Homo sapiens: one gene and its partners. The protein of the gene in region 3 purifies or fractionates together with the protein of the main gene of each other region. This does not show direct contact. Each region holds a gene or a part of one and is shown on either strand. Other genes may lie near its edges. The genes, in order: ASPSCR1, EIF4G3 and HAO2.

Region 1 (3,825 bases), on a different chromosome or scaffold from region 3:
GATCTGCCCGCCTCGGCCTCCTAAAGTGCTGGGATTACAGGCTGCCCTTGCGGCATCCATGCAGCGCTTTCGGCTCTAACATTCTGGGCAATTCTATGAGCAGGTGGTCAGGCTGGTGGGTGAATGCTGCTGACACCCTGAGCCAGGGAAGGCACAACTGACCCCAGAAAGAAAGAAAAACTTCCACATGAAGAATGACGTGGGCGGGGCGCAGAGGCTCACGCCTGCAATCCTTTGGGAGGACTTTGGGAGGCCGAGGCGGGTAGATCATGAGGTCAGCAGTTCCAGACCAGCAGGCCAACATGGTGAAACCCTGCCTCTACTAAAATACAAAAATTAGCCGGGTGTGGTGGCGGGCACCTGTAGTCCTAGCTACTCGGGAGGCTGAGGCAGAATGGTGTGAACCCGGGAGGCGGAGCTTGAAGTGAGCCGAGACTGCGCCACTGAGCTCCAGCCTGGGCGACAGAGCGAGACTCCAGCTCAAAAAAAAAAAAACATGAGATGCTCATTTTCAGTTGCCAGTTATCAAAAAACAGGAAGCTGTTTGGGCCCAACCCAGGGAAGGCAGAACTGGTGCTAAGACTCATGTCCCTCCTTCCCCAGCACCCCCCACTGTCCCGTCCCCCGTCCCTGGCCAGCTGAACGATCCTGTGCCCCACACAGTCAGCCTCCCCCAGAGCACGACCCACCATGTTCTCAGGCCCCTCACGGCTCCGGGAAGCGGGCACCATCTCCAGCTTGGCATTGTTGGGCAGGTTGGCAAATCTCCACTGGAGAGAAAGGTCGAGCACGCTCCTCTGAAACCTGCAAGACAGACCAGAGCACACTTGCTGCCCTGCAGAGCCTGACACGCCCTGCCATCCACGCCCCGCCATCCCCGTCCCACCATCCACGCCCCGCCATCCACGCCCCGCCATCCACGTCCTGTGGCAGCTCCCCAACAGCGGGACGTCATGACCTGCAGAGGCACAAGGCGGGTCCCCGATCATATGGGGCCTCCTGCAAGCAGAAGGGAGCAGGAAAAAGGGAGATGTGGGCCTCGGTGCACGCCGAGGGGGCTGCTCCTTCAGAGTCTGGGGTGCTGACAGCCCCAGTGCAGACGCTCGGAAAACACAGAGAGAACGACTGGGGCGTGAACACTGCTGCACTCGCGGAAGCTGGAGTGTCACAGACCCCGGCCGTCACGGCTGGAGCCACCACAGAAAACCTGACTGCCCGGGCGCAGTGGCTCACGCCTGTAATCCCAGCACTTTCGGAGGCCGAGGCAGGCGGATCACCTGAGGTTCAGGAGTTTGAGACAAGCCTGACCAACATGGTGAAACCCCGTCTCTACTGAAAATACAAAAATATCCCATCTCTACTAAAAATACAAAAAAATAAGCTGGGCATGGTGGCTCAGGCCTGTAGTCCCAGCTACTCGGGAGGCTGAGGCAGGAGAATCGCTTGAACCCGGGAGGCAGAGGCTGCAGTGAGGCAAGATCATGCCACTGCACTCCTGCCTGGGCAACAAGAGCAAAACTCTGTGAAAGAAAAAAGGAAAGGAAAGGAAAGAAAAGAAAAGAAAAGAGAAAGGAAGAAAAAGAAAAAGAGAAGAAGAAAGAAAGAAAGAAAGAGAAAACAAGAAAGAAAAAGAAAGAAAAGAAAAGAAAAATCTGAATATACTCAAAGTGGTTGGCCTCACTTTGGAAATGCAAGCTGCTGTCGGAGACAACTAGTGAAGAGAGTTCAGACAGCCCAGGGGCATCTGGAAGAATTAAGAGAGAACAAACTTTGCTATATCAACACTGGCCAGAAAAGTGAGTCTGGAAATTGCCACATGAAATGTCTACGTCAAGACAGGATAGCAGATCGGGGGATCCCGAGGGCAGGCAGGCTGGGAACCTTGGAGCGGAGGGCACTGTTCACGCCTGGGGCTGCATTCCTCTGCACCGGCTGCACTTTGTAAGCAAGTGGTACCATTAGCAGAGGAAAAGGGCACCTGAAAACATGGCTATGGTATTGCAGGACCTGCCTCAAAATCGCACTCACTGGTTCCCACCAGACACCACCACACAGACCACGGGCAGGTGAACACTGAGAAGTAACAATGCGCTGGGCGCGGTGGCTCATGCCTGTAATCCCAGCAATTTGGGAGGCCCAGACGGGCAGATCACTTGAGGTCAGGAGTTTGAGAGCAGTCTGGCCAATGTGGTGAAACTCCGTCTCTACTAAAAATACAAAAATTAGCCAGGCATGGTGGCACAGGCCTGTAGTCCCAGCTACTCGGGAGGCTGAAGTGGGAGGAGTGCTTCAACCCGGGAGGCGGAGGTTGCAGTGTGCCAAGATCGCGCCATTGCACTCCAGCCTGGGCGACAGAGCGAGACTCCGTCTCAAAAAAAAGAAAGAAAAATGAGGCCAGGTGCAGTGGCTCACGCCTATCATCCCAGCACTTTGGGAGGCCAAGACGGGCGGATCACTTGAGGTCAGGAGTTTGAGACCAGCCTGGTCCACATGGTGAAACCCCGTCACTACTAAAAATACAAAAATTAGCCAGGCGTGGCACGTGCCTGTAATTCCAGCTACTCAAGACGCTGAGGCACAATAATCGCTTGAACCCGGGAGGCAGAGGTTGCGGTGAGCTGAGATCATGCCACTGCCCTCCAGCCTAGGTGACAGAGCAAGACTCTGTTTCAGAAAAATGGCCAGGCACAGTGACTCATGCCTGTAATCCCAACACTTTGGAAGACCAAGGCGGGCAGATCACCTGAGGTCAGGACTTGAAGACCAGCATGACCAACATGGTGAAACCCCGTCCCTACTAAAAATACAAAAATTAGCTGGGCATGATGGCGCACGCCTGTAATCCCAGCTACTCGGGAGGCTGAGGCAGAAGAATCACTTGAACCTGGGAGACAGAGGTTGCAGTGAGCCGAGATAGCGCCACTGTACTACAGCCTGTGTGACAGAGCGAGACTCCACCTCAAAAAATAATAAAATAAAAAAGAAATAAAAATGAAACCCTAAGCCCCCCCCAACCAACTGAACCAGCCTCCTCTTGGCCCAGGGGACCCCAGAAACCTTGAAAGCTGAGTTCCTGGCCATGGCTGGGTGGGAGATCAGACACATCTGCAGGCTCTCTTCCCTAAGGGATAAACAGAAAGCAGCCCTTTCCAAAGACCCCTGGGCTGGTATCTGACATCAGCCAACCTCCCGCCAGGCCCTTCTCTCTTGCGGTTTCTTCAAAACAACCCACAGGTATTTCCTGATAAGAAACCACCAACCATGGAGTGGTTCTGGCACAGTCAGGGTTTTCGTGGCACAGTCTTCATGTCCTCTGATTTGCCATTTATTTATTTATTTACTTATTTACTTTTTTTGTAGAGACAGGGTCTCACTATGTTCCCCAGGCTGATCTCGAATTCCTGGGCTCAGGCAATCCTCCGCCTCGGGCACCCAAAGTGCTAGGATTACAGGCATGAGCCACTTCACCCAGCCTGCTTCACCTCTGACTTCAGAGGCCAAAAATTCCACCCTCAGGTCATGCTGGCACTGCCATTTTTTGCACATAGGACCCGTGAAGAGGCAGGAAGCTCAACTGTGTGCACAGTTCTCCTTTCATGAATACTCATGATCCTCCTACAGCGTATTAAGTACGTCTGTATCAGCCACCCCATTCGGTGTAAATCCCTGTCTTATTCTTCCCTCTCTTGAAGTGTCTGTTTCCAGCTTCTGGCTGGAGGCTACACTTCCCAGCCTGTTAGAATGGCCACCCTGCAAGCTGCAACCGGTTATGAGAAATAAAGCCCTCCTTTCCAAACATATGAACCGCATTCTTCAGTTGACAAG
Region 2 (3,600 bases), about 98 Mb from region 3:
AGTAAATTTCATTAAATAAAATGTGATGCTTTATCTTGAGTTTTTATACAAGTAATACTTTTTAAAATAAAAATTATCTCCCCAAATACAAAAATATATAGAATAAAAAATAACATCAGTCCCTTTATAATAATTTAATTTTTAATTGTTTGCCCTTGTACTGTTTTGCCACTGTAATATATCCTTGGAAAAAAAGTTTTTTAGGGAACGAGAAGTGGTAGAAATGAAGGTTTTCCTACCTTAAAGAAAAGCCTCACTCTTAAACCAAGAATGGTTTAGCCTCAGTTTTGGTGAGCTTTTCAGTTGTATTCTTGATATATAATTTTTTGGTGAATAGATTCCTTCTCTTACTCCAAAACAGACTTTATGTATTGGATACCAAGTAAATAGTAGGTTTAAGTAAAAAAAGAAAAGAGACAATGTTTTTGGCATACCAGAATAAGTCTAATATATTGGTCTCTGTTCTGTTACCTGTAATTTAGGGTAAGACATTGAAAGAATTGGCCCAAGGCAATATGTAGTCTCTGATCCAAGAATTATTCTTAAAACTTATTTTTTTTTCCCCAGAGGAGAAGCCAAAACCAGATCCAGTGTTAAAGTCTCCTTCCCCAGTCCTTAGGCTAGTCCTCAGTGGAGAGAAGAAAGAACAAGAAGGCCAGACATCTGAAACTACTGCAATAGTATCCATAGCAGAGCTTCCTCTGCCTCCATCACCTACCACTGTTTCTTCTGTTGCTCGAAGTACAATTGCAGCCCCCACCTCTTCTGCTCTTAGTAGCCAACCAATATTCACCACTGCTATAGATGACAGATGTGAACTCTCATCCCCAAGAGAAGACACAATTCCTATACCCAGCCTCACATCTTGCACAGAAACATCAGACCCTTTACCAACAAATGAAAATGATGATGATATATGCAAGAAACCCTGTAGTGTAGCACCTAATGATATTCCACTGGTTTCTAGTACTAACCTAATTAATGAAATAAATGGAGTTAGCGAAAAATTATCAGCCACGGAGAGCATTGTGGAAATAGTAAAACAGGAAGTATTGCCATTGACTCTTGAATTGGAGATTCTCGAAAATCCCCCAGAAGAAATGAAACTGGAGTGTATCCCAGCTCCCATCACCCCTTCCACAGTTCCTTCCTTTCCTCCAACTCCTCCAACTCCTCCAGCTTCTCCTCCTCACACTCCAGTCATTGTTCCTGCTGCTGCCACTACTGTTAGTTCTCCGAGTGCTGCCATCACAGTCCAGAGAGTCCTAGAGGAGGACGAGAGCATAAGAACTTGCCTTAGTGAAGATGCAAAAGAGATTCAGAACAAAATAGAGGTAGAAGCAGATGGGCAAACAGAAGAGATTTTGGATTCTCAAAACTTAAATTCAAGAAGGAGCCCTGTCCCAGGTAAGCCATTCTGCCATTAATCTCGTGCTTGCTGAACATGAAGAAGAGGCAGTGTTTGAGTTATTTTTTAATTGGCTACTTTCCTTGACTTCCAGAAACATCGAATGAATGCTGAAATTCCTAGTCTGGTTTCTTCAGTGGTGTGTTTGTGTTTTAGTACAACCTGCAAAAGAGTTACTCCATTGTCTAAAAATGCAAATGAGAATTTCCAAATATACAAAATGCCTCCAAGGTATATGTCACGAAACATGTTGGGTTTTGTTGTTGTTGTTGTTGCTATTGCCTCATTCATATGAATTGGTTTCTCAATGCTTAATTTTGCTGCTTTGGGGCTAGAAAACAAAAAACCAGGATGGTCTATAGTCCCTAATTCTGTCTTCCTAGAATTTTAAAACCCAGTCAATCCTAAAGGAACTCTTCTATGCATGACCAGTTTTTAAATCTTGGATGTAGGAAGATAGCAATCAGAACATCAAAGGTTTATAACTATTTTTGAAAATATAATGCTGTTGTTGATTCACTTGCAGGTAAGCTTAACGTTCTCTCACTTTGCCTTTTGAAACAGTTTTATTTTTTGTGTACATTTTTACATGGTCATTAATATCCTTGGAGTATTATATTCTTCCCAGTTCAAATTATTTCTTTTTAATGTAGCATCACCTGGGACCTTAGGAACTAACCATTGGGTTATTGTAAGTTTAATCAAAAGTTATCTGAGGCTTATCAGCTATTCTAGGATAAGTTAGCCCATAGGAATATTGAAGTTTTGGCTTTGAACAATTCAGCACAGCCTATCTTCTGCAACATTGCCCTATGCTATATAATTTCCTTTCTCTGTGCCTGTCAGATTAAGTAATGCGTATGTAAATTGGGCTTTTTGATAAATGAGTGCTCCTCCAGCAGTTGATCCTTGACATGCAGTGAATAGGTTTTGGTCACCATCATCCTCAGTATTTTTGTCTATTTTGAGGTGTATAATAAGGAAATTTGACAAACCCAAAAGCTGATCCCTACTTTTGAGATGTGGCTTTTCTACCCAGCTCAGTTCTTGAGACAATTTCCTCATCAGTGTCTGTAAGAGGTGTCTGGCCTTTTGGAACTGCAGAACATCTTGTAGAACACCATGAGCCAGCACAGGAAAGAAAACAATGCAAGGCAATTGGAACAGTGAGAAATTTTTCATAAATCTTTGTAAATTACCTGTTTCCTCAACTATCTGGCTTCCATTGACATCAGTATTCATAGTGCCATCACTGTTTTAGGAAACTTGTTCCTTGGTGGAGAGATGACCTTAGACCTTGTTTTGTCAGTTACCCTTTAGAAAAACAGCCTTGGGGCCGGGTGCAGTGGCTCATGCCTGTAATCCCTGCACTTTGGGAGGCCGAGGTAGGTGGATTGCCTGAGCTCAGGAGTTCGAGACCAGCCTTGGCAACACAGTGAAACCCCATCTCCACTGACATACAAAAAAAATAGCCAGGCATGGCAGTGTGGGCCTGTAGTCCCAGCTACTCGGGAGGCTGAGGCAGGAGAATTGCTTGAACCTGGGAGGCAGAGGTTGCAGTGAGCCAAGATCGTGCCGCCACACTCCAGCCTGGGCAACAGATCGAGACTCCATCTCAAAAAAAAAAAAAAAAAAAAAAAAACTAAACAACTTGGTGTTGGTGTGGCTGTAGGTAAATGCCCTCCGAAGAAACACGTGTTTGTTGGAGAACAGTAATTTGTTTGACACTTCAATGTTCATTTTCATTTGTAGTGATACGATAGTTACAAAAATGAGAGAAACTAATGAACAAAAATGTTTTTAAAATGTAAAAGCAAAGAAAAACAAAACAATCATAGGAAATATAAGTTGAAGATACAAACCATACCTCAGAATTGAAATAAGTGTAAAGTGAAAAGACCATGCATCAAAATCATACTTCACTCATTTCTGACATATATTCTTTTTTTAAACATCAGTTTGCCACTTAGATGACCTGATATTGCAAGACAGTGCCCAGGGATGGATGGGCAAACAGAATTTTGGTTTAAATAATGTTCATACCATGGTACATTTGTTTGAAATGCAGATGCTCTCAATATTAGTATTGTGAACACCAGCACCTTAATCAAAGAGTATAGACTCTTCAGTGGTAATCCAGAGAGCACTTAGAAAAGAAAGAACTGTTTTTTTAATGACTTGGAATAACAGAG
Region 3 (3,825 bases):
CATTAAAATCCTACAATTAAATGGCAAGAAGTGCCTCAGAGAGAGACAGCCATGATAAAGTGGGAATCCCTGGCTATAGTAGAGATACTAAAGCCAGCCTTTTCAACCAGTGGGCAACTGTGACACCAAGCCAAGTAACTCAACAGTTCTCATTAATCACAGATTGGCCTTGAGGTGCTCCAAAATCCTTATTCAAATTCCAGAAGCACATTGAGATTTATAAATGTTTGATGTACATGGTGAGCCAAGAGTAAATATTGGGTAATAACTGATTTAGTATTGCTTAGTTCTTATCCTGGGTATGCCTCAACCGTAACATATCACATTGACCAATAAATGCTTTTGCTTATCCATCTTATATACTAAACTCTGAATTTTTTAAAGTAGAAACTTTGTCTTATTTGTCTTTGTGTCCCCAGATCCTAGCACAATTACTGACAACAACATGATTCATGGTCAATGATAAGCAATTGAAGTAGAAATTCTTTTATACAAAGTTTGTTAGACAAAGGAGCTAGAAACGTTGTTGGGTTTTGTTGCTCCTGTTTCTTTTTGTTTTCTTTGTTGTTTGTTTGTTTGTTTGTTTTTGAGACAAGGTCTCACTCTGTCAGCCAGGCTAGTATGTGGTGGCGCCATCACTACTCACTGCAGTCTAGACCTCCTGAGCCCAAGCGATCCTCCCACTTCAGCCTCCCGAGTAGCTGGGACTACAGGCATGCACCACGATTTATTTTTTTAGAGGAGCAGCAGCAGGGTCTCTGTGTGTTGCCCATGCTTGTCTCAAACTACTAGGCTCAAAAGATCCTTCCGCCTCAGCCCCACAAAGTGCTGGGATTACAGGCATGAGCCACCATGCCCAGCCCTGTTCTTCCTCCTTCCAGTTTATAAATGGCAGCTCTCTAAATGTGTCTCATCTTTGGAATGCATCAAGTAGCCTTGTGAGAGCTCAGGACTAAGTTCCCTTTTTATTTCCTATAGGGAAATGCAATACCTTATTTCCAGATGACTCCTATCAGCACTTCTCTCTGCTGGAATGATCTCTCCTGGTTTCAGAGCATAACTCGATTGCCCATCATCCTGAAAGGGATTTTGACAAAAGAGGATGCAGAGTTAGCTGTGAAGCACAATGTCCAGGGTATCATTGTTTCCAACCATGGTGGGAGGCAGCTTGATGAGGTTCTTGCTTCAGTAAGTAGGATTACTTCAGAGAAGGGTGTGTTTGTGAGTGCTGTGTGTGTATGTGTGAGTGTGTCCACATCAAGGGACTCTGTGAAATCTGAGCATATTTCACTCCTCTGTACCACATGTGTTGGTATGTATCTGTGAATTTTAAGGACTGTTAATTATTATTAGTAGCCTACTGTGTGCTAAGCTGTTTTTTCAACCTTTACATATAGCATCTCTAAGTCTCATGCCAATGCTGCAAGATGGGTGTTATTATCCCTGATTTGCAAATGGGGATACTGTAGTTTAGTGATGTTAAATAACTTATCTTTAGTTCACTTAAGATAATAAATAATTAATGTTGAATTTGATTAGACAGATGTTCTAAAGTAAACACGTTTCATGGCAAAACTCTAAAAACACCCTGATGTGTCTTTTGCTAAAATCTATAAAAGTCCATAATTTTTTCCCTTAACTCATAAATTTATGTTCATTATAAATGAAGTTTGAGGGCAAGAAAGTGAGAGAAAGTAAGGCAGGGAAAGAATCTTTACATGGGAATTTGTTGTTGATTTGTTTTCATTGAGTTATATTTTTTCAAATGTTCTATTGCTGCTTGACTTGTTTTAAGAAAGAGAAATGAGGTTTTTTCCTCTTCAGTTTCATTGACACTTATATAAATAAAACATGTTCACTGCAGATAAATTAGAAAACATACATAAGCAAAAGATAAAAATTAACACTAATTTTATCACTATCACTAACGTCAACATTTTGGTCACTGTTAACATCTTCTTAATGCAAATACAATTTTTGGTGTTTAAGAAAAGTATAAATAATATTGTGTTTTTTTCTTTTACTTAGCATTATATTAAGAGCAACTTTTTGTTTCAGTATATATGCTCCTCTTATTTTTAATGGTATGTAGTATGAACAGACAACTATATAACCAACCTCCATTGTAGAACATCTGTATTGCCTCTAATCTTTCCCTATTTTAAACAACACATCAGTGACTGAATCCATAGCACAATCTCAAGTACTTCTTTAAGATAAATTCCAGGAATTAGAAATTTGCACTAGCTGGTTGGTACATTCCAAGACACGTGATGCTTGGAAGCCTAAGAGCCAGCCACTCACCTCCTCCTCTGCACCAGCTCTAACTGCTAAAGGCAGTGGAATGCAAGCCCACGTGGAGAGCAGGGGTCACCCTTCACTGTGTCTCTCTGGTAAGAGCTGAACCGAAGTGGTTGGGTCTCCTGCTTTTCATCTCACCTATTGACCTGCAAACTTAGGAGAAAGTGGTTGGGCTGAGCACACACTGAGCTCTCTCACCCAACCCCTGCCAGGATGCCTACAAGCCATCCAGTATTTAGCAAAACAGAGAAAGCAAAAGAGCATAGCATGCCCTGGGTCATCCCAACTATGCCTAAATAGGAGCAGAAGGCAATGAAGAGCCCATTACCAACAAGCAGCAAACAGTAGAATATAGGCTTTTGAAAGAAAGCTAATAAAATACATCATACAATAGGTGTCAGGCTCTCATTAATCAACTTAGCTGGTCTTGTTCTTTTGGAATAACTGAGTAATGAGTAGACAAAGAGGAAGACTAATTCTCCCATTGTGCTTCCCCACTAGAGAATGAGTATTGGCTAAGGTAGGGGCCAGGGAGAGGAGAATTTCTCCTATCTTATTGTGCTAATCAACTTGATATTCTCCCAAGCCATTTGGCTTCACATCCAAACTCAAGTTCACTTGGAGACAGCACAAATATCAGTGTGAGTCTCGTGAGGGTTTTGCTTCAGGTGAAACCTGACCCTGTGCTTGTATAACCCTGCCTCACTTGCCTCACCTTAATCCTAGCCCCAGGTCTATTTATTTATAAAAACAAACTTCCAGCTCACAGGTCAGAGTTTGCCATTTGTTTTTTTAAAACATTGTGTTCAAACATCATTTATCTGAGTTTTTTTAAAAAAATTATTTCCACAGGTTATTAAGGAACAGGTGGTGTCTGCTACATGAGTAAGTTCTTTAGTGGTGATTTGTGAGATTTTGGTGCAACCATCACCTGAGCAGTATACACTGCACCCTATTTGTAGTCTTTTATTCCCACCCCCTTCACACCCTTTCTCCCTTAGTCCCCAAAGTACATGGTGTCACTCTTATGCCTTTGCATCCTCATAGCTTAGCTCCCACTTATGAGTGAGAATATATGATGTTTGGTTTTCCATTCCTGAATTACTTCACTTAGAATAACACTCTCCAATCTCATCCAGGTTGCTGCGAATGCCATTAATTCATTCCTTCTTATGGCTGAGTAGTATTTCATCATATATATATATATATATATATATATATATACACCACAGTTTCTTTATCCACTCATTGATTGATGGGCATTTGGGTGGGTTCCACATTTTTGCAATTGTTAATTCTGCTGCTATAAACATGCGTGCAAGTATCATTTTCATATAATGACTTCTTTTCCCCTGGGTAGATACCTGGTAGTGGGATTGCTGGATCAAATGGTAGTTCTACTTTTAGTTCTATAAGGAATCTCCACACTGTTTTCCATAATAGTTGTACTAGCTCACATTCCCACCAGCAGTGTAGAAGTGTTCCCTGTTCACTGCATCCACATGAACATCTATTATTTTTTGA

The links.
Region 1: the proteins of HAO2 (region 3) and ASPSCR1 purify together in Homo sapiens (affinity purification with mass spectrometry; 2 studies listed by BioGRID and IntAct, with this or other methods). This does not show direct contact.
Region 2: the proteins of HAO2 (region 3) and EIF4G3 purify together in Homo sapiens (affinity purification with mass spectrometry; 2 studies listed by BioGRID and IntAct, with this or other methods). This does not show direct contact.

Annotation. Positions count from the first base shown.
Region 1 is NC_000017.11:81,980,533-81,984,357, reverse strand, and holds part of ASPSCR1 (tether containing UBX domain for GLUT4), read right to left. Parts: intron 805-3,825; coding exon 690-804; intron 1-689. UniProt on the Homo sapiens protein: Tethering protein that sequesters GLUT4-containing vesicles in the cytoplasm in the absence of insulin. Modulates the amount of GLUT4 that is available at the cell surface. Enhances VCP methylation catalyzed by VCPKMT.
Region 2 is NC_000001.11:20,939,298-20,942,897, reverse strand, and holds part of EIF4G3 (eukaryotic translation initiation factor 4 gamma 3), read left to right. Parts: intron 1-567; coding exon 568-1,407; intron 1,408-1,502; coding exon of another isoform or gene 1,503-1,522; exon of another isoform or gene 1,523-1,654; intron 1,655-3,600. UniProt on the Homo sapiens protein: Component of the protein complex eIF4F, which is involved in the recognition of the mRNA cap, ATP-dependent unwinding of 5'-terminal secondary structure and recruitment of mRNA to the ribosome. Functional homolog of EIF4G1.
Region 3 is NC_000001.11:119,385,644-119,389,468, forward strand, and holds part of HAO2 (2-Hydroxyacid oxidase 2), read left to right. Parts: exon of another isoform or gene 1-353; intron 354-978; coding exon 979-1,188; intron 1,189-3,825. UniProt on the Homo sapiens protein: Oxidase that catalyzes the oxidation of medium and long chain hydroxyacids such as 2-hydroxyhexadecanoate and 2-hydroxyoctanoate, to the correspondong 2-oxoacids.